Linked DNA regions of Homo sapiens. Changing the gene in region 1 together with any one later gene gives a genetic interaction. Each region holds a gene or a part of one and is shown in the gene's direction. Other genes may lie near its edges.

What was found. A genetic interaction does not mean that the proteins touch.
Region 2: changes in KAT7 (region 1) and KAT6A together harm fitness more than expected from each alone (negative genetic interaction), as found in Homo sapiens cells (one large-scale study listed by BioGRID).

The regions. Positions count from the first base shown.
Region 1 is NC_000017.11:49,830,181-49,833,680, forward strand, and holds part of KAT7 (histone acetyltransferase KAT7), read left to right. Parts: 3' UTR 1-3,500. UniProt on the Homo sapiens protein: Catalytic subunit of histone acetyltransferase HBO1 complexes, which specifically mediate acetylation of histone H3 at 'Lys-14' (H3K14ac), thereby regulating various processes, such as gene transcription, protein ubiquitination, immune regulation, stem cell pluripotent and self-renewal maintenance and embryonic development.
Region 2 is NC_000008.11:41,929,988-41,933,487, reverse strand, and holds part of KAT6A (histone acetyltransferase KAT6A), read left to right. Parts: coding exon 1-1,283; 3' UTR 1,284-3,500. UniProt on the Homo sapiens protein: Histone acetyltransferase that acetylates lysine residues in histone H3 and histone H4 (in vitro). Component of the MOZ/MORF complex which has a histone H3 acetyltransferase activity. May act as a transcriptional coactivator for RUNX1 and RUNX2.

The DNA.
Region 1 (3,500 bases):
TTTTTTTTTTTTTTTTTTTTTTTTTTTTAAAAAAAGACAGTCTCACTCTATCATCCAGTCCGGAATGCAGTGGCATGATCTCAGCTCACTGCAATGTCTGCCTCCTGGATTCCAGTGATTCTCCTGCCTCAGCCTCTCAAGTAGCTGGGATTACAGGTGCAGGCCACCTGGCTAATTTTTGTATGTTTAGTAGAGACAGGGTTTTGCCATGTTGGCCAGGCCAGTCTCAAACTCTTGACCTCAAGTGATCACCCGCCTCATCCTCCCAAAGTGCTGGGATTACAGCCGTGAGCCTCTGCACCCAGCTTTTAACTCCCTCTTATCTGCATAACAGAAGCTTAGCTGCTTAAGCTCCTTTATTAGAAGAGCAAAAGTCTGAAATTATTCCTGAAACCTGCTCAATGGAAGTACCTACTCTATTGGTTGCTTCCCATATGGTTGTCACTGTACCTTCATACTGCCTCATTTGACCCTCATATTAGCCCTGTACAGTAGATGGGTACACTGGTTTGCCAAAGGAGACCTGGAATCCAAGGTGGAAGTAAGCAGCAAAGCCAGAAACTTCAATTCTGGTCTGTCTACCTTGATAGCCTGCACCCTCCCCTCTACCGTTTTCTTCCACTATTTTTGATTCCTTAATGATGAATCATCCTCTCCCTTCTAGTTGGATTTGTTTCTAATGGCTTCCATTACAAGGATAATAATGAAACTGGTGAAAACTTTCAGGCAAAAGGATTTTCTTTTTATATTTTTTCTTATTATTTTTTAATTATTAACCAAATTAACTCATTACAGTAAAAAGGACTGATTTTTAAGCCAGCTGTGATAGCTCTGTAATAGTCTGTAATCTCAGCACTTTGGGAGGCCAAGGCGGGCAGATCGCTTGAGTCCAGGAATTCGAGACTAGCCTGGGCAGCATGGTGAAACCCCAGCTCTACAAAAAATAGAAAAATCAGACGTGGGCACATGCCTGTAGTCTCAGCTACTTGGGAGGCTGAGGCACGAGAATCGCCTGAACCTGGGAGGCAGAAGTTGCAATGAGCTGAGATGATGCCACTGCACTCCAGCCTGGGTGACAGAGTGAGACCCTGTCTCAAAAACAAAAAACAGAATTGATTGATGTTAGTTGGCTTTAGAAGCAGCAAGTTTAGGGGGCTACAGAGCTAAACCAGGAAGCAAAAGATGTGCCTCATTCTGGCATTGTTTCTGATTTAGGAATAAACTGTTCAGTAAGCACTGTCCCTTTACTTCCATGGTTTTCTTCATTCCTCACCACAGCACAGTAAGGTGGATATTATAGTCTTCTTCTAGATGAAAAATTGAGGCTCATAGTGGTCTTGCTGCTGTGTCATAGCAATAGAATGAGAGAGCCTTGCTTCCCTGAGTCCAAATCCCATACTTTTGGCATTGTTATGAGGTCTGGTCACCTGATGCTTCCATGCTATTTTCCCATTTCTTATCTGGGGATAATGAGTCATATTAAGTAATTTTTTTTTTTGAGACGGAGTTTCGTTCTGTCACCCAGGCTGGAGTGCAGTGGTGCGATCTTGGCTCACTGCAAGCTCTGCCTCCCGGGTTCATGCCATTCTTCTGCTTCAGTCTCCCGAGTAGCTGGGACTACAGGTGCCCACCACCACGCCCAGCTAATTTTTTGTATTTTTAGTAGAATGAGGTTTCACCGTGTTAGCCAGGATGATCTCGATCTCCTGACCTCGTGATCCACTCGCCTCAGCCTCCCAAAGTGCTGGGATTACAGGCGTGAGCCATTGCACCCAGCCATTTTTTTTTTTTTTAAGACGACGTCTCACTCTGTCACCTATGCTGGAGTGCAGTGGCGTGATCTAGGCTCATTGCAACCTCTGCCTCCCAGGTTCAAGCGATTTTCCTGCCTCAGCCTCCCAAGTAGCTGGGATTACAGGTGCCCACCACCTCGCCTGGCTAATTTTTGTATTTTTAGTAGAGATGAGGTTTTGCCCTGTTGGCTAGGTTGGTCTTGAACTCCTGACCTCAGGTGATCCACTCACCTCAGCCTCCCAAAGTGCTGGGATTACAGGCAGGAGCCACTGCGCCCAGCCAAGTAACTTTTAACAGTGTGGTATAACCTTTAAATGACAAGGTGATGCTTTTGACTTGTCCTCAACTTTGATTTGTACTGATTTGTCCCTATAGTTCTGGGTGGGGTGGGTCAAAACAAAGTCTCGAGCTGTACCAGGATCAAGCAGCACAGCTCAGCCATGATCCTTTTACCACTTTTTTCTTCTGTCCTTGAGACTCTAATTAAAGCACTGGATTTTTAAAAATCACCCTTGTAAATATGCACACATTTGTCTATAGTTGAGGAAATTGTGCCGTTGAAGTCCATTCTTGGACATGGAGTTAAGAAACCCTGGTTTGAGAAAAAGCCCCAGTGAGACAGCAGGAATCCTTTTACCATACAACCCTCAACTAGTTTAGTGTGCTCAAGCTCAAATAACCAATCCCATCAAGTGAAAAGAATGGCAGCAGGGAGAAGGCCTGGCTCACTGAGGCTCTCAGCATTAGTTTCCTCTACCTCTTGTGTCTCACAGGTGCACATATGTACAGCATATCAAAGTGTTGAATGTCATGAGAATAAAATATGAAAACTACTTTGCTGAATGATAGTATGTGATGTGTGCTAGGACTTCTAGAAGCCACCCTTTGCTTTGCTGTTCATTGGGATCATGGAATCGGACCTCAGCTGGTTTTGCCTCAGCACTTTCTTTCACAAAATTATGTGTGACTGCCTCCTCCAGACTGTTTCCTGCTGATAGGGGCAGTTTAATAGCCTTCTTCCTGTGTGGTATCTGCAACAAAATCCCAATGAATGTCACCAAGAAGGAAACAAAGGATTGCCCAGCGATGAGAAATGTCCCTGGTGCCAAAACATCAGTTTGCCCCTAACCTCTTGTGCAATACCTTTAAGTCCAGGTCATGTTGTTACCATTTGGGGGTTTGCGGATTTGTTTACTTGTGCCCAAGAATGGAGAAAATAACCTGTACTATTGTACAACTCTGGCTCCATGGCTCCTCACAAATGTTCCATGTGAGATATAAACATCTTTATCCTCGACAAGTCATGTTCATTCCAAGAAACCAGTCTTTGTTCTTAATTGGACATTTGTTTCTGCAAACAGCTTACCATACATTCAATTCCAAAGTTATCAGAAACCTACACTCTTATCTCACAAATTTAGAGGTGTGGTAGATCATCTCCAAAGATGGCCACCAACAGTTGCTCTCATCCTCTGTGCACGTGCTATTTCCAATAAGGTCTATTTTTTTCTACAGTGAGGGCTGAACTTGTGACTTGTTTTGACTAATAGGATATGGAAGTGATATTTTGGCAGCTTCCACTTTTGCTCTTGAAAATAAGCTGACACGTTTCCAAACGAGAAGCTTGGGCTAAATTACTGAATGGTGAGAGACGATGCATAGGAGAACCAAGGTGCTCTAGTCACAGCACTAAAAGCCCAGACTTG
Region 2 (3,500 bases), on another chromosome or scaffold:
GTGGGAACAGCTCTTCCCAGAGCAGCTGCTCCTACGGTGGGCTGTCGTCCTCCAGCAGCCTCACCCAGAGCAGCTGTGTGGTCACTCAGCAGATGGCCAGCATGGGCAGCAGCTGCAGCATGATGCAGCAGAGCAGCGTCCAGCCTGCTGCCAACTGCAGCATCAAGTCACCTCAGAGCTGCGTGGTGGAGAGGCCTCCCAGTAACCAGCAGCAGCAGCCGCCACCACCGCCTCCACAGCAGCCACAGCCGCCGCCGCCACAACCACAACCAGCACCACAGCCTCCACCACCCCAGCAGCAGCCGCAACAGCAGCCGCAGCCTCAGCCCCAGCAGCCTCCACCCCCACCCCCTCCCCAGCAGCAGCCCCCGCTGTCACAGTGTAGTATGAATAACAGTTTCACCCCAGCTCCTATGATCATGGAGATACCAGAATCTGGAAGCACTGGGAACATAAGTATCTATGAGAGGATTCCAGGGGATTTTGGTGCCGGCAGCTACTCTCAACCATCAGCCACCTTCAGCCTAGCCAAGCTGCAGCAGCTGACCAACACCATTATGGACCCTCATGCCATGCCTTATAGCCATTCTCCTGCTGTGACTTCCTATGCAACCAGTGTTTCTCTGTCCAATACAGGACTGGCTCAGCTGGCTCCATCTCATCCCTTAGCTGGGACTCCTCAAGCACAAGCCACCATGACGCCACCCCCAAACTTGGCATCCACTACCATGAACCTCACATCTCCTCTGCTTCAGTGCAACATGTCTGCCACCAACATTGGCATTCCTCACACGCAGAGATTGCAAGGGCAAATGCCAGTGAAGGGGCACATTTCCATCCGCTCCAAGTCTGCGCCACTGCCCTCTGCGGCTGCTCACCAGCAGCAGCTGTATGGCCGTAGCCCATCGGCAGTTGCCATGCAGGCTGGCCCTCGCGCACTGGCTGTTCAGCGTGGCATGAACATGGGGGTTAATCTGATGCCTACTCCCGCCTATAATGTCAATTCCATGAATATGAACACCTTGAATGCCATGAACAGCTATCGAATGACACAGCCCATGATGAACAGCAGTTACCATAGTAACCCTGCCTACATGAACCAGACAGCACAGTATCCTATGCAGATGCAGATGGGAATGATGGGGAGCCAGGCCTATACCCAGCAGCCTATGCAGCCTAACCCTCATGGGAACATGATGTACACAGGCCCCTCCCATCACAGCTACATGAACGCTGCTGGCGTGCCCAAGCAGTCACTCAACGGACCTTACATGAGAAGATGAGCAAGATGAACTTGCAATCAAAAACTTAAATATATATAAATAAAGGAACCTTTTATACTGACAAACCAGAGAAAAATGGACCTTTTTCCAGTTAAAATATTGCTGTAGATTTAGAGGAATTTTTCTTTGGTTTATTTTATTTTTTAGAAAACCTGATCTTCTCTTTTTTTGGGTTCATTTTGTTCTGGGTTTTGGTTTTCTTCACAATCTTGAACATTTTACAGTAGAACTCATCTAAAAATGGATTTGGGGATGGGGAAACATGCACAAAATCTTTTCATAATTAAAAAGAGCCTTACTTTCTTTACATACCACATGGACAGAATTTGTGTAAAAGTGAATTATCTTTATTTTAAAATGTATGTTTCCCCTCACTGTTTGCAGCTCCCAATGTTGTCATTTTTAAATGTTATATACATCTCAAGGGTTAACCAGACCCTTTCCTCCAAACCCAACCTTTCATTTCCTACTTCATTCCAGCAGGAGGCACTTAGGGGAGACTCGGATGGGGACATGGAGAACAACCCAAGCTCCTTAAACTTATTATTATTGTTAATATTATTATTATTATTATTAATAAAGTGAGGCAGGAAAATGCTTCTCCTTTTAAAATCCCCTCCACTCCTCACACACACACACCTCTTGAAACCCTTCCCCAAGAATGTTTCTTTATAGACGGACTTCATTGAAATCTTTGTTGTTCTTGAATCAAGTGTAATATAATTTTTTTCTTCTTTTTTAAAATATTCCCACTCAGCACTCAGAGACACAAAAATACTGTAAGTCTCAATTAACAGCAGAATCTCAGAGAAAAGCTGTTTGCAATCCAAATCCAGCCTTTGGAGGAATAGAGATGGTCAATTAACAATCAAAAAGAGGAGATTAACCTCTTGTTTTTTTACCACCTGGTGAATCAGCCATAACGCACACACACGCCACCCAGCCTCTTGTTTCTAGTATGTACTTTGAAATGCTAACTGAGGGTCTTGATGCTTGAGCCTTTGACTGATAAAACTCAAATAGCAGTCCCCAGTGATTTGCCTCTTAGGTTCTTTCTTAAATTGTTGGTGGATGACTGTACATTTTAGTGATTTGAAAAATAACTGACAAACCATTGAAACAGTTTATTTTATGTTGGAAGAGATGGCGCAGATGTGTGTCAGAAGGGAGATCACGGTGTGAGTTTCGTAGCTATTTAAGTGATACATACCTCTAGTTTTTGTATGTCTTTTGAGATCCTGAGTTCATCCCCTGTGAATCAGAGTGCACAAGCACCTCTCCTGTGAGTGGCTAATGAGAAGAGGGACAGACCGACCACCAGCACAGTAGGGCAGATCTGGACAGCAGAATGTTATAACGCAAGTTCATGTGTTGCTCCCAACTCCATTCTCTTTTCTCTCGTGCAACCAGTTTGCCCATTCTCTTCCTATTACTTGCTCCAGGGATAGGTAAAAAAAAAAAAAAAAAAAAAAAAAATATATATATATATATATACACACACACACACACACACACACACACATATATATATATATATATTCCATCATTAGAAGATGGAAACTATTATACCACTTGGTATGTGCAGTCAAATATCCAAAAGGGGGAAGTACTGCTTAGAGAAATATCTGTAAGCATTAAATTCTCTCCTTTATTTGTACATTTTATATAGATAAATTTTTAAAGTACTAATTAGGCATTAACTTTTTTCAAATGCACAGGTTTGTTGGTTTTTTTAATACACTTTAATTGACTTTCTCAAGCGTGCTAGGTAGAAACGCAGAATTCCACATCTTCCCGCTCTCAGCTCTGAGCATGTGCAAGGCTGTGTAGGACCCAGTTTCTCTGTATATACTATTCCAGTTCCCAGTCATCTATGTAGAAAGTGCACTGTGCTGCCATCGCCCTACATCTTCAGCTGTGTCATTGCTTCCTGGTTGGGGTGGGGACGGGGTGGGTCGGGAGGGAGGTATATTGGGAGGAGGGTGGGTCAAGGCAGAAGGAGAAGCTGTTGAAATGAGGGCCGTGAAATCAGTTTCTGTTGGTTTGCGGTTGTGTTTGGTTTTGTTTGTTTCTTTATAAAAAATTCAATCGGGCAGCTCCCTTTTCCACAAGCCTCTTTGTGACTGTAGAACTATTGTAGAAAAAAAAAGTTCTTTTCTATATTATAAAAGAAATTATCCAACACAGTAATATTGGTACCTGTCATTTTTTCACTTC